Homo sapiens: one gene and its partners. The protein of the gene in region 3 purifies or fractionates together with the protein of the main gene of each other region. This does not show direct contact. Each region holds a gene or a part of one and is shown on either strand. Other genes may lie near its edges.

The links.
Region 1: the proteins of ASIC2 (region 3) and YME1L1 purify together in Homo sapiens (affinity purification with mass spectrometry; one large-scale study listed by BioGRID and IntAct). This does not show direct contact.
Region 2: the proteins of ASIC2 (region 3) and HS2ST1 purify together in Homo sapiens (affinity purification with mass spectrometry; one large-scale study listed by BioGRID and IntAct). This does not show direct contact.
Region 4: the proteins of ASIC2 (region 3) and FAR2 purify together in Homo sapiens (affinity purification with mass spectrometry; one large-scale study listed by BioGRID and IntAct). This does not show direct contact.
Region 5: the proteins of ASIC2 (region 3) and IQGAP2 purify together in Homo sapiens (affinity purification with mass spectrometry; one large-scale study listed by BioGRID and IntAct). This does not show direct contact.

The regions. Positions count from the first base shown.
Region 1 is NC_000010.11:27,143,841-27,148,191, forward strand, and holds part of YME1L1 (ATP-dependent zinc metalloprotease YME1L1), read right to left. Parts: intron 3,829-4,351; coding exon of another isoform or gene 3,658-3,828; intron 1,751-3,657; coding exon 1,588-1,750; intron 1-1,587. UniProt on the Homo sapiens protein: ATP-dependent metalloprotease that catalyzes the degradation of folded and unfolded proteins with a suitable degron sequence in the mitochondrial intermembrane region.
Region 2 is NC_000001.11:86,917,324-86,921,674, forward strand, and holds part of HS2ST1 (heparan sulfate 2-O-sulfotransferase 1), read left to right. Parts: intron 1-4,351. UniProt on the Homo sapiens protein: Catalyzes the transfer of a sulfo group from 3'-phospho-5'-adenylyl sulfate (PAPS) to the 2-OH position of iduronic acid (IdoA) or glucuronic acid (GlcA) within the heparan sulfate (HS) chain and participates in HS biosynthesis.
Region 3 is NC_000017.11:33,023,715-33,028,065, forward strand, and holds part of ASIC2 (acid-sensing ion channel 2), read right to left. Parts: intron 2,269-4,351; coding exon 2,212-2,268; intron 301-2,211; coding exon 147-300; intron 1-146. UniProt on the Homo sapiens protein: Forms pH-gated trimeric sodium channels that act as postsynaptic excitatory sensors in the nervous system. Upon extracellular acidification, these channels generate rapid, transient inward currents that fully desensitize.
Region 4 is NC_000012.12:29,147,574-29,152,586, reverse strand, and holds the start of FAR2 (fatty acyl-CoA reductase 2), read right to left. Parts: upstream 3,310-5,013; 5' UTR 3,180-3,309; intron 1-3,179. UniProt on the Homo sapiens protein: Catalyzes the reduction of saturated but not unsaturated C16 or C18 fatty acyl-CoA to fatty alcohols (FAls). A lower activity can be observed with shorter fatty acyl-CoA substrates.
Region 5 is NC_000005.10:76,703,601-76,707,951, reverse strand, and holds part of IQGAP2 (ras GTPase-activating-like protein IQGAP2), read right to left. Parts: intron 753-4,351; coding exon 639-752; 3' UTR 1-638. UniProt on the Homo sapiens protein: Binds to activated CDC42 and RAC1 but does not seem to stimulate their GTPase activity. Associates with calmodulin.

The DNA of each region.
Region 1 (4,351 bases), on a different chromosome or scaffold from region 3:
TATTATCTTTCCCTCATAAAGCTTCCCTAGTCATTGGGTAAAAAGAAAGGTCAAGCCATGAATACTTCACTGATCCTTCCTAACTGCTTCTCTTGACTAGTGTGTCTCATCCTATTTTATATCCAAGATCCTAGGGAAAAGATCATCAGCAGCAACAGCAGAAACAAACAGTGGCTATCATCTATTTGTGTGTCTCAGTTAGAATTTAGGGACTTTTTTCAAGGTCCCTTAGCATCCAGTCAAAAAATCTCTTCCTAATACCTCTGCCTGCCTAAACCTAGCAAGCAGCTGGTGGTATGAGGAACAATCTTAAGAGTAAATGTAAATATGCAGACTAGAAGAGCAGTAGGAATAATCATAATAACATAGTAACAAAAAGAATTTTATTCTATTGAACACTTGGTATGGGCCAAATATTTTATAAGAAGGCAACTTTAGGCAGAGGCAAACTTTTAGTCTAAGCCCCCAAGCTCAAAACCATTTCATTTTTTCCTCACACTTACGGTTTTTTATGCCCTTACACTGAAATAAAGGCAAAGGAAGGGTCAAGAATTAATGAATTAAGTTTATGCAAAGGACAGCTTCAAATCAAACCTTCATTATAAACTAGTCAAACCTGCTATTTTGTTCCTGGATTTTTATGGCCTGTTTAAGTGCCATCCAAAGAAAAACTCATAAAGTTGACATCCCTTTTCAGACTAGTATGAACCCACTTATTATACTACCATACTGTTATGAGATTCAAGTAAAAAAAAATGTAGACATTCCACAAAAGGGATAACAACTGTTTTTTTAATCAATGTATTCTCAAAGATTAAGTATGTTTCCTGGAATTAAATGTGTGTCACCTAAAATTAAAACAAACAACGCCCCCCCATTCTGCTAAATGCAATGTGGTATGCTGGATCAGATCCTGGAAAAGAAAAAGGACACTTGCAGAGAACTAGTGATTTGGTGAAAACAAATTTTGTTGAAATTCAAATAGTCTGTAGTTTAGTTAAAAATAAGGTACCAATGTTAGGCCTGCACGGTGGCTCACGCCTATAATCCCAGCACTTTGGGAGGCTGAGGAGGGTGGATCACGAGGTCAGGAGATCAAGATCATCCTGGCTAACACGGTGAAACCCCATCTCTACTAAAAATACAAAAAATTAGCCGGGCGTGGTGGCGGGCGCCTGTAGTCCCAGCTACTTGGGAGGCCGAGGCAAGAGAATGGTGTGAACCCGGGAGGCGGAGCTTGCAGTGAGCGGAGATTGTGCCACTGCACTCCAGCCTGGCTGACAGAAGGAGACTCCGTCTCAAAAAAAAAATTATTGTACCAATGTTAATTTCCTAGTTTTAACAAATGTAACATGATTATGTAAGATGCCAAAATTAGTGGAAGCAAAATTCTGTACTATCTTTGCAACTTTCCTGTAAATCTGGTACTATTTCAATATGAAAAATTGCAAAAAAAAAAACAAAAAAAAAACACTTCAGGAAAGAACCCAGCCCACAATAAACGCTACTGTGAAAGCTAAGAAATGGTATCTATAATTATTAATAGTGCTAAAATATTTAATTGGAACAAAAAACACATTAACATACCATATTTATTTTCAAAGAAGGATTGTGCAGAGACATGGGATGTATGCCAATGGGAAGAAATGTTTTTGCCTTTACAAAATCCAGGAAGTAGATTTTCTACCAGCTGATCAATCTGTCCAATTTTTAGTTCAGATAATCCAAGGTCCCTTAAGTTAAGTGAAGGCTGTAAAAGATTGGGTCAACCAGGTATGCATTAATATTATCAAGATATTTAACCTAAGGAGTACATATTATCAGTTAAAACAATCAGATTTTAAAAGTCTAACAAATATATTTCCTTTTTTTAATATTTAAAAATAAATTGATGCAAATATTTTCACAGTTCGTTTTACTGAGATCAGTCATATGAGGTTTGACATAGGTTAAAAAATTATATTCCTAATGGTATCCTTAAATAAAGAGATGACATTTCAGCATGAATGAGAAAAACTTTTTTTTTTTTTAAATCAAACCCAAACCACTACTGTCCTAAGCATTATGGTTCACAGAATCAAGTGAAATGTATGGCATTTTTTCCTTCTCTCCATACAAGGGTACTCTGATCAAGAGCTAGTCTATCAACTATTGATCAAGCATTTATAATGACAAGAGTGTAAGAGTAACTAACTGCAGGGTTACAAAGTATGTTATATAAGGTCCAGGGGATTTTCCCCAACAGTGTAGAACTGATTGGAGGATAATAGTAAGGTTCTTGAATTGGGGAAATTCCATTCAAATGATAATCCTCACCAGTCCATGGAGCTTTTAAGCCCCTAAGCAGCCATAAACAAAAGCCCACTTGACAAAGAAATGGTATGCTTGGTTACCATAGGACATCTCACTCCTCTGGCCTCATTGCTTAGATCCTTCCTTGAACTCAGAGGTTCTAAAGTTACCCATATCTTCTAATAAAGAAGAAAATTAAAGTCAAAACTGTGTGAAAATCAGGCAAAAAAGTCTAAAAATCACAAAAATGTGTGTATACCCACTTTTAAACAACAGGATAGGGATTATTTTCTTGTCCACATGAGCTGAAAGAGAGGCACTTAAAGGCAAGTAACAATTACATGTTACTCAAACCCAAAACAGCTAAGGTGGGAAGATCGTTTGAGGCCAGGAGTTTGAGACCAGCCTGAGCAACATGGTAAGACATCATCTTGATGAAAAATTTAAAAATTAGCTGGGCATGGTGGTATGCACCCGCAGCACCAGCTACTCAGGAGAAATGTTTGAGCCCAGGAGCTGGAGGTTGCAGTGAGCTATGACAGCATCACTGCACTTCAGCCTGGGCTACAAAGGGGAGACCCTGTCTCTAAAAATAAAGTTTTTTTTAAAAGAGGCATGGACACGGATTATATAGCTCTGGACTGATGTCTGGGAATACGGTACTTTTTAAATTAGCTATAACTCATATTCTTAGAATTCATTTTCTCAATACTAACATAACTATAAAATACACCTTATTTCCTAATAGTAAGGATCAAAGGCAGAGATCATGCCTTACTCATCTACGTATCCTAGCATACAACATGACAGCACATAGTAAAAGACAGTTAAAGGCATGATGAAATAAAATACTTAAAAGTACTTTTTAAGCTATTAAAAATGATCAAGGCGGCTTAGGGACGGGGGCAAACAAAAAGCCATCCAAGGGTCTGGAATATCTCAAAAAATTCAAGGAAAGAAAAAATTAAAGAGATAGGTTATGGCCAAACTGTGAAGAGCCATGTTTGAATTTAATTCTCTAAGTAACATGATTAGTTCTGTCTTATAGAAGAAAATGGAGAACTAAGGAAGATAGACTGGCCTAGCATGGTGGCTCGAGCCTGTAATCCCAACACTTTTGAGAGGCTGAGGTGGGAGGACTGCTTCAGGCCAGGAGTTCGAGATCAGCCTGGTGAAGAAAGCAAGACCCTGTCTTTACAAAAAATTTAAAAATGATAAAACAAACAAACAAAGAAACTAGACTGGATGAGAGAGAAGGCTGATGGAACAAGTGAAAGATGGCAAGAACCTGAACTAAGCCGTGACTAAGAACGATGGACAAAACAAATCATAGACAATAGGCATTTGGAGAAACCCGCAGTGTACAGGGATTGAGAGGGAGAAGGGTTCTGGACGGATGTGCCAGTTATCGGTTGTGTCCAAGCTCTTCTTCATCCTTTTTGCTGGCTCCATGAACATGGATCTGTACCCTTCGAATATTTTTCCTTTGCCAATTGAAACAATGTTAAGCTTCGTCAGGAAGTCACTGAACATACACTGTAGGAAGAGAGGTTTTGATTCCTGGTTGTGGTATGCTCATTTAGCAAGTTCCTGTCTGTAACACCCGTGGTTTCTATAGCATCTGGCTCCTGTCAATTGTGCAGTTTCACCAAACCCTGGCTCCTGGCGTGCACAATGGCCAGCAGGACCTAGCAGCTTCCCCTGGCACCACTCGTGTAACAGCTTCTCTAGTAGGACACATCCCCAGGAACAGCTTTTCCCAGTATCCTAGAGGGCAGACTTCCCAGATTTCTAGCACGTTACCCTGGCATGACATCACAGCAACTTTTCTACCATTCAGTGAGCCAAGGCCATGCCTTCGCCAACAATGTCAGGATCTCAGCCCTGGGGATGGAGAACTCTTCCTGACTCTATCTCAGCCCTAGAAGTATGAGCTGCTCCCTAAATCTGCTGGTCCTTTATTTTTTTAAGAGTTTTATTTACTTCTTAAATCCCTACCTATTCCACTTCCCTGTAAAAACAGGTGTTTTTTTTTAGATTAAACCAAAAAATGAGATTA
Region 2 (4,351 bases), on a different chromosome or scaffold from region 3:
GCCTCGCCAACATGGTGAAACCCTATCTCTACTAAAAATACAAAAATTAGTCGGGCGGGGTGGCGGGCGCCTGTAATCCCACCTACTCAGGAGGCTAAGGCATGAGAACCGCTTGAACCTGGGAGGCAGAGATTGCAGTAAGCCAAGATCACACCACTGCACTCCAGCCTGGGCAATAGAGTGAGACTCAGTCTCAAAAAAAAAAAAACCAAAGAACAACAGAAAGCCATTTTTGCAGATGCAGGAACAGGCTTAGAGAGGTTATATAACTTGCCCAAGACCACATCGCATTTAAGTGGCAGAGCCAGGATTGCAACCCAGGTATGTATGATTCCAAATCAAGTGCTCCTTTAATTATGTCCGGCTGCTTAAGACTTTATATTGACATTACGCTGAGATTTAGGTATTTGAATAGAGTTTTAAAATTGTAATATCAGTGTTTAATTGCATTTATTGCTAAGAATGAATATCATTCAGAGAAAATTGAATTTCTGATACAAAGGAATTGGTTTAATGTAACGTCTGCCCCTTGTTTAGATTCATGTAATGAACATAATTATGTTACCCAATGAAACAACTGAATTAGATAGCTTATTTTTACTATAGGAAAGAAAAATCTAGCTGTTTTCCATACGTGCAAAATCACAATGTTAAAAAAGCATTTTTATTTTGGCATAAAAAACCTATTAAACATTTTGTCCTTAAAAGTAGTTATTATCATTTTCATTGTAGAAGATTCCAAAGGATAGTATTGTCTGATAGTGGCTTTAATATACCTTGATTTGAGAGTACAGTATTTTGATGGTGAGACTTCTAATAGAGCAATAGATGTATTCAAAACTGAGGTGTACTCATTGACTACTTGGGAAATTCACTAATTAGGAATTCCTAAAAAAAAAAATTCAGTAATACAGCTTTTTATTTTTATTTTTTAAAAAACAAATATGGCATTGTAGTCCACATATTACAATGCGGCTTGCTTTTTTTGCCTTGAATGTTATACACATCTTTCCAGGTCAGTACATATAGATGTGACTTACTCATTCTATTAATAATAGCTGTATAATATTCCAAAGTATGCATGTATCATAAATTATTAAGCCATTATTCTAGTAACGGACATTCAGTTTGTCCCCCATCTGTCGTGTGTGTGCGTGTGTATATATACATATATATATAATTTTTTTGAGTGTTTCTTTTCTTTCTTGGTATTATAAACAATTATAGGAAACATCCTTATGTGTCCGTTTAACTCATGTTGATGTCATTTTGTGCTAGGATGAATTCTGTATGTGAGATTGCTGGGACAAAGAATATACATATTTTATAATTTAACAGATTTAAAAATCTACTTTTCAACATTTTTTTGTTTTTCAAAAGATGTAGTAATCTACACTGCCAGCACACATTCATTAGCACTAGAAGATAATCAGCTTTTAATTTTTGCCAGTGTGAAGCTGTGAAATGATATATTCAATTAATTTACCTTCTAATTTCTAGGTAGGTTGAACATCTTTACATGTTTATTGCCCTTTTATTTGTTACTTTTTTCTATTTTTCTATTGGGTGGTTTACTTTTTTTTTTAAATATTAGAATTAGTAATCCTTTATCTATCCTATGTCTTTTTTAAATTTTTTTTATTTTTATTTATTTATTTATTTATTTATTTTTTTGAGATGAGCCTTGCTGTCACCCAGGCTGGAGTGCAGTGGCACGATTTCGGCTCACTCCTGCCTCAGCCTCCCAAGTAGCGGGGATTGCAGGTACGTGCCACCACGCCCAGGTAATTTTTGTATTTTTAGTAGAGACAGGGTTTCACCATGTTGGCCAGGCTGGTCTTGAACTCCTGACCTCAAGTGATCTGCCCCCCTCTGCCTTCCAAAATGCTGGGATTACAGGCATGAGCCACTGCACCCGGCCTCTTATTTGTTTTTGTCCAAGTTTGCCATTTGTTTCTTGACTTTATGGTGTGTTTTGCTCATATAGAAGTTTTAAAATACACACAGTTAAATCTATCAATTTAGGGAAGTCGTTTTCATATTTTGCTTAGGAAGACTTACCCAGAGCCAGGATTGTGTACATTTTCTGTATTTTATTATAGTATTTTATAGTTTATTACATTTGGCTCTTTAAACCATTTGTATGTTTACAGAGATTTATCATGATTTTCTCAGTAAATCATTTTTTCCAACTGTATGTTAACATTCCTTCTTTTAATCACATACTAAGTTTTCATATGTTCTTGGATCAATTTTGGATGCTATTTTCCATTAATCAGAGATTCTTTAAACCTCGGGGACCCATAAATAGGCTTCAAGGTATCAGTGAATTCCCTGAAATTATATACATAACTTTCATCAGATTTGCAAAGGAGTATGTGATTCCTTTAATGGCAAGGATCACAGATTTATAGTAGATGTTTCATATTTAGTGGACTTTTTTTTGTTTTTAGTAACATAACGTGCAGATTGTGAGTTAAATTTAGGAGATAAGCTTATTACCTGTGAAAAAGAGAAGTTTTTCAACTTCAAATGAAGTTAATACTTCATTGTATTAAAATGTAGACTTAATTTTCTAGTGAGAAATGGAAAAGGACAGGGAATCCAAATGAAAACTATTTAACTGTGACTCGTTACTATAAAATGTCAGAATTTGTGGCTGGTAAAAAGTAGTTCTTCCCGAATTTCAAGAGCGCACTTGTTGCTAATATTGACTGGTCGAACAGTGCAGTGAAATATTTTCTCACATAAGTGATAGAACTATGTGCTTGGTAACTTTATTTTCTATAGGGTTTTAGCATTGTAAATAATATTTGTTGACTGTATTCTTACATCTCTATATGGATTTATGAGCACATTAGGAATAATCTTTTACATGGGGAAAATAATTGAGAATGGATTATGTAATCATCCATTGGTGAGAATTAATGTTAGTCATTATGTTCTTAAAACTCTACTAGACTAAACAACTAATTCCAGGGCCAAGGTTGAGACTGCTTTTTGGAATTTGGTAGTTTTTACAAGTAAGTTCCTGAAACCATGCAGCAATACCTGTAAGATGTTCCAGAGAATGCTAGATTTCCTCACTTCTGAAATCATTTGGAAAACCTCATAGTAGCTACTGTTTTGAGGACTTTGGGTTAATAGGAATACAGTTATTCTAGAATTGGTAATTGGTGCCTCACTTAGTCTTGAATAGGATGTCTAGTGCCATGGAGTAGTCACCTGAAATAGTTGATCTCAATTAAGATAATTCCAGGATGTCTGTCCACCACTCTGGTAGGCCTTCTAATAGCTTTTTGGCACTTAGAGAAATTGAAATAATAATGAATGTTCAAAGATTGCTCTCCAGAAGACCATTTTTGAAGGATGTACTTATAGATGAACTTCATAATCATGGTTCACTATAGCCTAGTTATTTTTAAGATCTACCCACCTACCAGTACCTGTACTTACGTATTCTGCCTTTCTGCCTGTTAACAATAGATGGTAACTGTCAGTGCTCCTGTTCGGTCATTTGTGCACCTGATTCTGTTGCCTCACTTACCTAAAGACATGGTTCCCGAAGCTTTCCCTCATTCTCCTGTCACAATGTATTCTTGAAAATTGCTAAGAGAGTGGATTTTAAGTGTTTTCACCATACCAAAAAAAAAAGTATGTGAGGTAATGCATGTTGTCTTAATTAGCTTGATTTAGCCATCCATGATATATACATGTTTTAAAACATGTTGTACATGATAAATATATACAGTTTTGTCAATTACAAATAAAAAAAAACTATCTTGGTAAATGTTCCAGGTGAACGTGAAAAATATGTATTCTGTTGTTATTGGCTGAAGTATGCTGTAGATGTCGGTTGGTAGTATTGTTATGGTGTTTTGTATTCTTGATTTTTTTCTGCCTCTTCATCAGTTATGGAGAGGGGTTTTGAAATCTTTGATAATTGTGGATTTGTCTGTTTTTCTTGTAGTTATGTCACTTTTTGCTTCATGTATTTTGAAGTGCTGTGATTAAGTATATGCACATTTAGGCTGTCATGTCTTCTTGATGGACCAACCCTTTTTTTTATACAAGATACCATCTTTATCCTTGGTAATATTCTTTGCTCTGAAACCTACTGCTGTGGTGTTAATGTCTCCCCCAAAATTCACATGTTGGAAACTTAATCTCCGATGCAACAGTATTGGGGCGGGAGGTGGAGGGTGTTTAGGTGATGAGGGCTCTCCCCTCATAACTGTATTAATACTGTTATAAAAGAGCTTGTGGCAGTGTGTTCTCTTTTTTCTACGTAAGAAGACAGCATTTGTCCCCCTTTTGCCATTTCTACCCCCAACCATGTGAGGATGCCACA
Region 3 (4,351 bases):
GCGCAGAGCGTGACACACAGAGGGTGTTCAACTAATGTTTGCTAACTTGAACCAAATGCTTATCTTTGCTTTCCTCCTTGATTGCCTCCAATTTCCTCCTTATCCAGTTCCCCCTTCCCCCTGCCTACCATGCCCACTAAACTTACGAGATATATTTTTCTGATTTGTTAAATTTCTTCTCAAGGTACTTGGCTGATGTCTTGCTGGGGATCTTCACCATGGAGAGCTCTTTGTTGTAGCGGGTTAGGTTGCAGGGTGTCCTGCAGAGACAGTAATTGCTGTCCTTTTCCGCCAACAGACCTGGAGGGGAGAGTGAGGTGGGGCTTAGTCAGGTGTGGGCACTGGGATTTCTAAGGGTCCAGAGTAGCTGGATTGTAGCAGCTGAGAAATGAGCTGGGAAGGGGCACTGGTCTGGGGAAAGTGAGGGGCAGGGATTGTGGAGAGAGGGGAACTGGGCTTTTGCTGTAGGTTGATCTTGTTTTCCTTCTGCTTCTTTTAACTGTCATGTCACTCTTTAAAAATTGTTGAAATGGGACCACTTTTGCAGAGGTCTCCAAGAGAGTCCTGGTGTCCTCAGCTTCTCATGGCTTTCTTCCCTGCTCCCAGCCTCAGTATTCTCATCCACAGAGAATGATCCACCATCAAAGCAAATGTAGGAGACCATTTTATCTGAAACCCAGGGCTCTGTGCTCTTCCTGCTGGGGCTCCCTCATAGCCAGTGCCCCACCTTCTCTGCCTGGTGGGTTAGGATGCAGGCAAAGTTCCTTCATTTCTTTCCCTGGAGGCAACTCCCTGCATCTGGAACCCTTCCTGCCCTCTCCTCTCTTCTTCCAATTAGACATAAAGTTTAAGGCATCATTTCCCTCTGACAAAGACTTTCTCCCTGATCAAACTTAGCCAGGCTCTTCAGAACCCTGTTCTCAACTAGGCCTTGACCTTGGCCCCCATCCATGCTGGGCGGGCCTAGCCCAGTTTTAGCAAGAATCCTGCTAAAGTCAGTTTAGAGAGAATCCCCCACCCTTGATATCTGATCACCCTGGCCTGCCTTTGCAGATTTCCCCCTAACTTTGATGTTTTCTCTGGGTAATTTTCCATCTACTGAGTCCTCGCTCTGCTTGATGGCTATGAATCTCCAGCTGTCTTGGCTGAATTCTCAGTTGAGTCCCATCTGTTTCCCCTGTTGTGATACTCTTGACACCTGTTGCAATTGCCCTGAATAAAGACTTCCTTACCATTTTAACTAGTGTCAGAGTGATTTTTTCTTTAACACCTCCCTCCCTTTTTCCTCTAGCCACCTCAGTGTTTCCAGCTACCCTGGGTTTTGCTGAGTCTTTGCACACATCAGAAGTCACTCCCTCTCCTCTCAGCCTGCCCTCCCTCTCTAGTCCTCCTGGAGGTATCTGGACCTGAGGCCAGCACTGCCTCACTTAGCTCCAGCAAGTGCAGATGCTGAACGAACTTGAGGGCACATTGTTTAAAAAGTCTGCTTGTCTTGATTATAAGCCATTTCCTGGGTCCAGAGAGAGGCAAGCATGCAGAGTGGGCCTAGCTTTGGGGCTGCAGCTTGTTTGTGCACTCTCCCTCCCTCCTAGTTTTCCAGCTGGGGAACCAGCAGAGGTCTTCTAACTGGCAGACCCCCCGCAGGCCCCTCAGGCAGGAGGAAGAAGTGTGCTTTGTGTTTTCCATTTGCATGCATGGAATGCAAACCTGACTTTACCTCTCCAGCCCTCCTCCACCTCCCCTAGGCTCAATGGAGCAGAAGAAAGATGGTACTTCAGAATCACCTTGGCCTCCCCATGTAGACACCATCAGAGTGTGTGAGGGGAGGTATTGCCAAGCTCCTCTGATGCCTACCTGGCTGCCCACTGTCTATCCTCTCTCCACCTCTGTCCTCTCCCCTGCATTCCTTAGCACCCTCTGTTTCCCCTGAAACCCACTCCTTCTCCATCTCCACCTTCCATATCTCTTTCTCTCCCCAGTCCCATTTCCAGCCCTCATCCTCTTGCACCAGTTCCCTTCCCAACCTTCTCTTCTTCCTCCTCTCCATCTCCCTCTCCCATCCCTGCAGCAACTCCACCCGACCAGCCCCTTTCTTCTCATCCTCTCTCCATTCCTTCTTCCACTTGATCTTTCCCCAAACCCAGATGATTTCCATGATCTCAGTCTCAGGCCCCCGGCCCCCATGATTCCATCTGTCCCCTGAGTACTGACCTAGGGCAGGCTCTGCACACTCCTTGTGCTGCTCAGGGGTACAAAAAGGGGCATCCCCTGCAAAGAAGAAACACCAGACAGAGTTACTCAGGCAGGAACATTCATGTCAGCAACACCTCCTCTGCTTTGGGCTTAGGGAAAGGGGTGCCTCCTGGCAGTTGAAGGGGCAGCGGCCTGCCAGTGGGCAGTTCGAAGGGAGCCTTGGATCACAGTGCACCCCAGAGCTGGAAGGCTGGCTTCTGATCTGCTATGTAAGCTTGGGCAGGCTGTTCACCTCGTTGAGCAGGAGACAGTAGGATCTGTATGGCTAACTTCTCCCATGTTTCTGTGTAGGTCCAGCCAGCTCCCGTGGGTGACAGGTGGGCTCACCTTGAGGATTGAGACTAGGGAGGTGGTGGTAAGCACCTTGTAAGCCTGGCTATACATCATCTTCTTTAACCCATACAGGCACCCTTTGAAGTCAGAAGTACTGTGTCTGTTTTACCCATGATAATTTTGAGGCTTAAGCATCCTGCCTTCCCAGGACACCAAGGCTAGTAGTGATGGAAGTGGGCTTTGAACAGAGGTCAGTCTGATCCAGAGCCTGGAGCTCTTCTCAGCACAACCACACTGCTGTATGGGAACAAGGGTTGTTTTGTGTTTCTTCATTGCTTTGTTCATAATTCCACATTAGTAACTGAGATGTCAGTATTAGTGTCATGGGTGTGATTGACACCTCTACTGCTTGCCTTTGGCTAAGGGTTGGTGGGGAAAACCTCACTGGCTGGTGGCCTAGTCTGAGCATCAGGTGAGTAATATTCCCCAGTACTGGATTCTCCTTGCTGGGATCTCTTTGTAGAAACCCAGGATCTTTTCTTTTCCTTTACCAAGCTCTAAAGTTAAAGTCCACCATGTTTTTTTCCTTATCATTTTCCCCAAATCCTTTTTCGGAGCCGAAGAGTCAATATGCTTTCTCCTTTCCAAAAACAACAGATTAAATGACATGTTTCCCTGTTTGCTCTGTTTTCTAGGAAGCTCAGAGGCCATTTTATTATTATTCGTATTTAAAACATACAAATTTATTATTATGTTACAGTTTAGCAGGTCAGAAGTCAGATATAGGTCTCATTGGTCCAGAATCAAGGTGTTGGGTGGGAGGCCAATGTTCTTTTTGAAGGCTGTAGGGGAGAATTCATTTCCTCGCCTTTCCCAGCTTCCAGAGGTCACCCCCACATTCACTGGCAACCCACATGCATCGACTACCCACATTCTTCCATCTTCAAAGTGAACAAGTTTGCATCTCCCTGACCCTTCTTTCATAGTCATATCTCCCTCTGACCCTGGCTGGAAAAGGGGGGTTGATTTTGAGGACTCTGATTAGATTTGGGCCCACCTTTCAGCACAGATTATCACAGAAAACAATTGGTAATGAACCAAATGTCCAGTATAAGGATTTAGTTAAGTAAAATTGAATAAAGTATGATATAACCATGAAATAACAGCTACTAAATATAATAACAACATTCCCGGCACATAGTAGGTCTTTAGTCAGCATGACTTTTGGTTCCCTCTTTCAATATGCTAAATAACAACCACTGACTTTTATAGTTTACAAAATATTTTTATATCCTAGCCTAATTTTCACCTTATAACAGCTGCTGATTGTGTTTTAAAGTTCATAAACGTGAGAACAGAGAGGTTTAGTAACCAGGTCATACAGTAAATGAGTGGAAGAGCCTGAATTAGAAACCAAGGCCCCACTCATGTGTCCTTGCTGCAACACTGCGCTCTTCCTCCCCAGATCAGCTTTCCACTCTGCACTTCAGCCTCTGATAAGCCAACTGTGTGAGATGGCCACATGCATTGTTAGTCTGACAACAGAGGTGTCATTATGTGCACATTTATTTGCTGGCCAATAGACTTTTGCCTCATTTGAAGGAGTGCTAGACATTTGGACACAAAAAGTGAAACATCTGGATGAAAGAAACATCTGGATGCTCAAACATGTACTACACGAGCTGCAAGAATTGCAAGCATCCAGTTATCTGGAAGCTAAACTCTCAGAGGTAAGAACAGCAGACAACTGGCAAACATTGAACACTGGGATGAACATTCCCCAAACACTGGATGCTTCTGGATACCAGGATGCTGCCTTGGTTGC
Region 4 (5,013 bases), on a different chromosome or scaffold from region 3:
TCTAGTGCCATTAGAAGACCTTAATAAAGGAGTTTGATCAATTCCCTTTCACACTATTTTATTCCTCAGTGGTTCTGAGTGTATTGCCATCATGCTAACAAGGACAGCTGGAATAAAGATAAGTTTTGAGGTCAGAGAGTAGTTAAGGGAGGAGTCTGGGGACAGAGGACTTGCCTGTTTTCTCAGTTCCTCTTTAAGAGGCACCAGAGTTACAAAAGGTCACTAGGTGTATTTGGCAAGAGACTAGGTGTACTTTAAATTGATTTGGCATTTCCTAGGATATTTTAAAGGATGACTTGATCAAACTTTTGAACTTACAGATTTTTTAAATTAAATGAAACAAAAAGGATTACCCCCTCAAAAAATTTCAGTCATTGGCTCATTTTCTCACCGTTCGACGTTTGGATGAATTAGACCCAAACATTAATTTAATTCAATAACTACCTTTGGGATCCAAGAAGTTATTCTGCACCTTTAGTTGAAAATTCTAATTTTGTCCAAATAATGATATTTCAGGAGTATTTAACACACTGAATACTTGCCTACTTTTTGTTTTATTTTCCACCAAACTATAAGGGTCAGAAAGGTTCTACAGTCTTTTCAGTGTGCTCAATCAACCTTCCTCAAGCTACTTCTGAAAAATGGAGGGCAAAGTTTAACCCTTCAACAACAGCATATTTTTTAGAAAAGAACTATTCAAAGCAAGTAGACATTTTTTACAATTATTACCTCTTTTTACTTAGAGATAGTACAACCTTGAAAATAAAGAAAGTAGAAGGTGTCATCTGTTGTCTTTATTTTGTCAATGAGGAAACTGAAATGTAGGAAGACTGAATGACATGTCCAAGAGCACCTAAGTGAGCAGCAGATAAATTTCAGGTTTGTACTGGAGAACTCACCGTAAATGTGGGATTGCTGTTCAAACACTGTTATTTGGTTAGTTTTAGACCAAGTTTGTCAGCCTGGGGTCAGGATATAATTTGTAGGACCCAGTTCAAAATGAAGATCCAGAGCCTCTTTGAAAATTATTAAGCCAGCAGACGGTGATAGCAGAACATTACCAAACGCAGGGCCCTTCCAAGTGCAAGGCCCTGTGCGGTTGCAGTTTTGTATTTCCATGAAGCTGGCCCTGCCTGGAGCCTCTGGACATCTAGAATGTAGGAGGCTGGGCATCAAGGAGGCCATGAACTCCTGAAATTGTAGGTGGAATTTTGTGTTAATATGTATGCATTTGTCTTTCATATTCCATAGCTTTCATCAGATTCTCAAATTGGTCTGTTACCCTCTTCAAAGGTAATACATGTTCCAACAGAGCCTACAATGTCAGAATATATTGGTAGGGACAAGCATGCTGGTGGTCACTGTGCATGATCCTTCACAAGGCTATATTTGTGAATAAGTAAGTTTTCATGAGTGCATGGGAATTAATGCAAAATCAAGGAATTCTTAACACTGATGAGACGTTGCCAGAAACAAATGCACTCAAGAATGCTTCTTCCTCAGGAGATAGGAAAGCAGATGGTGAGATGGTCAAGATGATCATATGCTTTATAAACCCCAAAGTGATACCCTAATATAAGCCATTTTATTTATTTTCAACCTCTCCCTCTTCCTCTGTAACTGGATGTCACATTTTAGCTTCCTTTAAGGAAAGCATATTTTCATTTACTTTAATTTCTCTAATAGCTGTATGATTTACCAACTCATGGTGATTTACATCTCTTTTATAGATAATTATAGCCCAATGTTAGAAATAGGAGTAAGTGAGGAATTTGTTAATACAGCAGGGGCAGAAGCAGCCCTCAGAATTAGGAAAAGAGTACTGTAAAGACGTGGATCCTGAGAAATACTACCGATGAAATATTGACACACGCGTCGGCCTGGTAAAAACCTCATGCCCATCTCCTAGAAGTCTCACACACAAATATCCCTTCTGCGGAAATGCCTGCTCTTGCAGTTTAGGTGGCTGCCTTAAGTTTTTATTTAGTCCCTTGCCCCCCTTTCTAAATTTTGGACTAACTACACCTGTCAGTCAAATCTCCAGCTCTTATAAATGGGAATATACAGAGATGGGTAATTGAAACCACGGGGTAATTCTCAAATTTCCATTTGCCCAGTGTCAAATTTCTCTCAACCTAGCAAACAGAAAAGCACGATCTACCTGAATTCCCTGGTCACTTTTCTGACCCTACTCTGTCCTTGCTCATCACATAATGGGGGCACTTTACGTGATTCAACGAGTGGCCAAACTCTTGCAGATCCAGCGATAACCTTGGTTGCTCACACCACATAACTCAACCGTGGAAGAAATGGTGCCACCGCTGGCAGGTGAGACGCCTTCCTCTGGTTTGTAGGATACGATTGGGCATGAATTGTTTTAATAGACTGAGACTGCCCCGCGGGTAATTCTACTTGCTAGGAGTGTTGAGCAGCCTTCCTGCAAGCCATCTACTCCAGTTGGGAGTCTGCTGGCACCTGCTCCCCTGCACACCCCCAGGATGCCCAGGCCGCAGGAAGATGTCTAAAACTTCCTACAGGGGCAAAGCCCGCCCTGGCCTCACCAGTCGCCCCAGCGCGCGTCAGCCACGACCCCGGCGAGGCCCAGGTGGGAGGGTAGGGACGTGCGCAGCCTGGGGTGGGGCTGGGGGCTGGCGAGGACCTGCTCCGGGGACCAGGACTGGGCGCCCTGGCGGTCCCAGGCACCGGGAGGGGACCTAGGACCGCTGCCGTTTCACACGTGGCCCCGGCATTTTCGCGCTCTCTCCAGGAATAGCCCCAAGGGCCCAGGAGGCCTGGGTGGGACTCGGCCCCGCGCCTCTCTTCCCGGGTCCCCAGTCCCCAAGGCGCGGCCCCCCACATTAACCTTGCTGGGTCCTTCCCGGCTTTCTGCCCTTTGCAACCCCCGCGCGCCCCACCTTGGCGGGCTCCGCCGACGCCAACCGCGCGTAAACGGCCGGTGACGATTGGGGTGCAGCCGGGGGCAGCTTCAGGGGGCAGAGCCTCCGCAAATGCTTCTCTCCTCCCACCCGGCCTCACACCCACCCTCCTCGAGGTCCCGCCGGGAACCGCCCCGCCCTGCGAACCCAGCCGAGCCCTCCCTCCTGGGCCACCCCCAGTCCGGTCTCTGCTTTTGGAGCGCGTGGGCTCTGCGAGCGCCAGGGCTGGGGACCCTGGAATACCTGTTCCTCCAGCACGAGGATGGGGTCCAACTAGTGGTCCTCTAAATCCTGCTCCTTCCCCGAGGCTACGGGAAGCGCTCCAGCCACAAGGAAACGGCTCCAGTCTTTCGGCTCCCAAACGTGACACTCTATATATCCGGCTCGGAGACTGGGTGTGGGGCGGGAGGAAACCACCCTCCCTCCGACCTTCCCCGGCTCCGCCGCTGCCTCGGCACTGGGCGCGAAACCGGCGGCAGCCTCAGCCCGGGGCGGGAGGAGGGTGAGGGGCCAGCGAAGGCCCTACAGGTCGCGGGGGCGACAGCATCGTGGGCAGGGCGGCCGCGCGCGCAGGCCCGCCCCGCGCTTCCATTCGTTCAGCACCAGCGGATCCACTGGCTATGACTCCCGCATTTGTGTGGTTTGGGGGAGGGGAGTTGGTTTTGGTTTCGGTGGGTTTGGTTTGTTTGTTTGTTTGGGGCTTTTGTTTTGTTTTGTTTTGGGTTTTGGGGTTGGTTTTTTTCTCCATTTTTTAATCAGTGGGCGAGGGGACAAGGAAGCTAGAAAGGCGCCCCTCTCTGGTGTGGGAAAGGAGAACTCCCACACCGTGAAAGGTGGCGGGGTAGGGGGGTGGAGGGAGAGACCGAGACAGGAGAGAGATTCAAAGGTTCTAGTCTGAACTGAACGCTTGGGGGACATACCTTTCCCCACCCACCCTAGCAGAAAAGGCAGCCAAAAATCCCAGTTTACTCAGCTTGACTACACTGCACATCCCGTGGGAGGGATGCTCTTGTATCTGCTAAAGACATTGCGGAGGCGCCCTGCAGTGACCCACGAACGCAGTGGCTTTTTAAAACCCAAGGGCGTGAGGGTGGAGGGTGATGCGAGGACTTCAGGTGAGGCTTCCTCACACTCGGGGTTTGAAGGGCAGAAATCCGGCTCTGCCTGCCTATGGTGGGGTGGGGGTGGGTAGGAGACTAGAAAGGATCAGAGATGGGGGCCGCAGAAACAGCAGTGAGCCAGCTGTGCTCAGCAGCACTTCTCCGGACTTAAAAGAAAAAAAGATGTTTCATTTCTTAGCCTGGTAGCTTTTTTGGGATTTGGTCATTGTTAAATTTTAAACGGAAAAACAAGCTGCCAGGGAAGCCTTGTAGAGGGATGGACAGGCACGTGAGTGGAGCCCTTGGCCTCAACCAGGAAGTGCTGAAAAACGGCCAACGCCCATCCTAATTCCCTGGACAATGTAGGAGGTAAATTTCCAAATAAATATGGTGTGTTAAGAAAAATAGAAAAGAAATATTGTCCTATAAGCTGTTCTGATTCTCCTCATTATAACAATCCACATGCAATTAAAGAAATAAAATTTGACTTTTGAAAGTTAGAATTAAGGAGTGATTTCATGAAATTAAAATAATAACACCCATCTTGAATTCTCTACTACTGGGCTCTTTAATGAAATGTGTTAAGCTAAGTGTAGCCTAAAGGCACTGACTAATTTCCTCTGGTGACCGCCTGAATGCAAGAGACAGAAAAAAAGTTACAACCAAATTTATAGTATTTTTCGTTACCCCTCCCCTCCTCAAGAATAAATTTGAATGTATCTTCAAAATGTGTGTGACAGCACTTCAAATGATAATGTCAAATGCTGGTGAAAACGTATAGAAATCACTTAACAGATAGCAGATGGAAGGTAAATTGTAATCACGCTTTTGTTGGAAAGCAATTTAGCAACACATTCCCAAGGTGTTCAGTAACGAAATTTTTTCTTGTTCTGGACCTAGATTCCCATGTCTTACAATGTATTCAAAGGAGATAATCCATAAAAGAGAAATGCCGCATGTACATAGTTGCATATTTA
Region 5 (4,351 bases), on a different chromosome or scaffold from region 3:
CTTAAAGGCTCTGCGTGCAAGAGTCTTTACATGAGGCAGTAGTGCACTTTCATTTAGTAGGAATAAATCACATAAAATATATACTTTTATACAGAAAGTGTTATTGTGTTGTCATTTTCAATTACTTATAAAAACTTCATTTGAATTGCACAAAAGTTCTCTTTAAAATTGATAACTCCCAGAAGACAGGGCTTAGAACTGTCTAAATAATTCATTACAAATAATTAGGTTTCCATTTATCCATAGATTAAAAAAACTATGAAGAATTACGTTATTCAAGTGGGACATTTAAAATTTTTTTCATAGGAAAATAGGTTTACATGTTTGTCCCTAGTCAGCTAAATTTCCCACCCCCCAACTTTAAAACAGATCACAGGATGTCCAAAGTTTTAAATCAGAGTACCTATATCACAGTACAGTGTGGATATGTTTCCATTAATTCATTTTATGTCTCATTCTATTATAGTATCAAATTAGCAAAAAGGCACCTGGGTACATTCTTCAGAACAGTTTTGGTCGTTTTAAAAAAATCACACATTTATAAGCAGTGATTTCAATCATGTTTAAAAACAAAAATATTAAACAAATTCATTTCCTAATCCAGATGATACAGAATCCAAGAAATTTCTGTAGGCACTTCACTTTCCATAGAACTTCTTGTTCAGCAGGTATATGAGAAGGTTTACATTCACTTTAACCTTATCAAACATTTTCATTACAGCTACTCCTTCATATTGCATCTGAAGTAAATCCTGAAATTGTAAAAAGCATCATTAAATCTCAACTTTGACATTTTGTGCATTTAAAAAACATATTAGAAGAATTTGTTGACAAAAGTCAGATTCAATTGACCTAATCACCTGGGTGGGGTCTAACTATGTTGCCCAGGTTGGTCTCAAACTCCTGGCTTAAGCTATCTTCCCACCTCAGCCTCCCGAGTAGCCAGGACTACAGGCGCATGCCATGGCACCAGGCCATAGATGGGGGTTCTAAAACTTAAGTGTACATCAGAATCATCTGGTTAAAAACATAGGCTAGTTAAAATAAAGGCTGCCTGGGCTCCTCCCACAGGAATTTCTTGTTATGTAGCTCTCTGGTGGGGCCCATCAATTTGCATTTTAATAAATTCCCAAGTGATTGTGACTTAGATGAAAGAAAATAGCTTTTTGGAATTGATAAGGGCTGTATGAAAGTAAATGATGATCATTAAGTTAATGTCAGATATATAATTTCAATTTTTAATCGAAAATGTTAAAACACAAAGTTCTGGCTAGATGCATATTCTTTAGAAAGCAGTGTTTTCTGGCTGGGTGTGGTGGCTCATTCCTGTAATACCAGCAGTTTGAGAGGCTGAGGCAGGTGGATCACTTGAGGTCAGGAGAGTGAGACCAGCCTGGCCAACATGGCGAAACCCCATCTCTACTAAAAATACAAAAATTAGCTGGGCGTGGTGGTGCACACTTGTAATCCCAGCTACTCAGGAGGCTGAGGCAGGAAAATCACTTGAACAGAGTAGGCAGAGATTGCAGCGAGCCGAGATTGCACTGCTGTACTCCAGCCTCAGCGACAGAGAAAGACTCTGTCTCAAAAAACCCGAAAAACAAAAACAAAAACAAAAACAAAAACAAAAACACAGAAAGCAGTGTTTTTTTAAAGTGAAGTGAGCAAGACATTCACTGGGGAAGCAAAAAGAATATTAGAACTCCTATTTCTATTTATTTTTTCTCATTTTTTGGACTTTTTTGGTATATAATACAGCACGTTTTAGAGTACAATAGCAGAAGCATGTATACTTTACAAATAACTATGTATGGAGAGAAGTGCTCATACTATTTCCTGATGAAGTGACCAAAGTTTGGAGACCATTGTACAAAGCGGTGGTCCGCACTTCTTGAACTAGGCTACTTCTGTTTCTGTACTGAGAACAAGCCCTCATTCTTAAGTCGAACTGTCATTCTGTTTTTCACTGCCAGCATATAAACAAAGGAAATCAACTCTCTTTTTAAAATAAGTAACTGGATCACACCAGCCATATGCATGAAACTAAGCTGTAACATTTCATAGTAACATAGGTACAGGAAGCCTTTCCCAATGGAAGATATAATTCCTGAGCTGTCCTGGCCCAATATCTAAGTCTCATTTTCTTGTTTCTAGCAAGGTCAATTGTAGAAGTTGGAGTCATCTTTGAGAGAACTCTGACTCTTGGCAGCTTCCTCCTCCACTTCCTCAATTACCTCTCACTGCACTTAAGAAAACCCCTACATTATTCAGATATGCTTCTAGAACTAAAATTCTATAGGGAATTGAAGTCCTTTCATCAATAATACTTTTAGCTATTTAGAGTGTAGAGGAGATTCACTTTTCCTCTGGGAAATGCAACATCTGTTAAACAAAGTCTAGTGGAAAAGAATTAAACCAATAGAGTTAGATTGAAAAGGAATGGCATATGTAGGGGAAGTAGCTGGGTCCCCAAAGTAGGGAGCAGAGAAAACATGGCTGGACTCATGACTTGAAAAGCAGACTTTAGTTTTAGCTCTGCCATTTGCTATCTTAAGACCTTGCAACATGACATAACTTCTCTGAAGTTCTGTTTCCCTGTGTGTAAATTGGGGATAACACTGCCAATTTCACAAGGGTGCTACTGGGAATGAGATATGAGATTAAGGTATATGCAAACCCTTTGTAAGCTACTCTTGTCTTGCAGGATCAACTGGAATCCTATGAGACAGGCAGTGGACTAGAGTGATGAAGAACTTGGATCCCAGCTGCATTATCTTCCATAATTATCCCAGCTAATTATCTTCCATAATTAGCTGTCTGAACCTCAGTTCTTCATCTAGGAGAGGAAGAAGGCCCACCCTGCAGTCCCCGATAAATACCTGACATTATTTTTACAAGAAGAATATATATCACATAAGTCATATCCTCCTGTTACCTATATGGCCTATAATTATAGGATATAATTCTATCCTATGGTTTTCTTTAGGAACTGAAGGGAAAATGGGCTGAAGATAACCAAGAGACATAGAGCTGTAATGTTAGAAGGGGCTTTCTTTAGTCCTTTCAAACTTTGGTCCTGTTCCTGGTCCTTTACTCACAGTAAGGACCTGGCCATCACATTTCTCTTTGACAATTTACACATTCATGCAATTGACTGAAAGCTGCATATATAAATAGAAGTCTGCCTTTACATCTGACAGCTATCAAATGCAGGGCTGGCTCCGTGGGTATGCAATCTGTGCAGCCGCACAGGGTCCCATGCCCAGGGTTTTATTCTCTTCTGTCATCATCCTAAAATCCTTAATAATTTTAAAAACAGGGCACTGCATTTTTATTTTGCTCTGAGCCCTGCTAAGGATGTAGCCAGTTCTGATTATGCACTACTGATTTAAAAAACCCAGGACATACTGGTCACCTGCATATAGCTAAGGATTAACATTTCACAATCCATTATGTGTATAAATGAATGGTATGAACAGCTAATCTTACTGTATACAGAATCCTTAACAAAGGAACAAGTGAAGCTTGGTTTTTATACCAGTACTCAAAGGAAGTCTCATGGAATTATTGCTTTCTCTCTAAACACAATATAAGGTGTCTCCTGGTCACTTGTGACTCATTGGTCCAGTTGATATTGACTGGCCCTGGATAATTTCCTTCTTGGCAATCACATATGTCTTTTGCTATTTCTACAGAGGAATCACTAACCAAAGGGTATCACCACAAGCACCTTCTTTTCTCTTCCTGTATTTATCTGTTACACAAAATAACTGAAGACCCTAATTAGCTAAATTATTAAATGGATACATTTAGTGACATTTAAAGTAAGTTAGAAAACAATACTGTTTACTTAATTATACTTTCAATAATTACATAATAGCTTTCATCTTATCTCCGAATTCTAATTTACTCCATTATCTCAATGTCCTTATCAAACCCATTCAGCTCCCGTTTTTCTTTTAAACTTACAAGGGCTGCCAGAAAAGAAGGGCTCTGGCACACACTCCCATGATGGGGAAGTAATTCCAGTGCATGGAGCCCTGGGCTGCACAGACAGTGAGGCCAGAATTCACATCACTCTCAGGATCTTAGTGAGATGATTCATGTAAACATATGCAAAATACCTGGAAACCATTTTGTAAGTAGTTTGGGGCCCAGGTAAGATGTTATTTCCATTTAAAAAGTGTTACATCAAAAAAGAAAAATAAATTACTTCTTTAAATTGGTTTTGTGCTAAGGATTAAGAAGTTGGGGGCAGATGAACATTTGTTTGCAGTGCTCTCTTTTTTTTTTTTTTTGCACAGAAACTGGATTTCTCGGTTTTCATTTACGTGTATTTGGCTTAAATGTG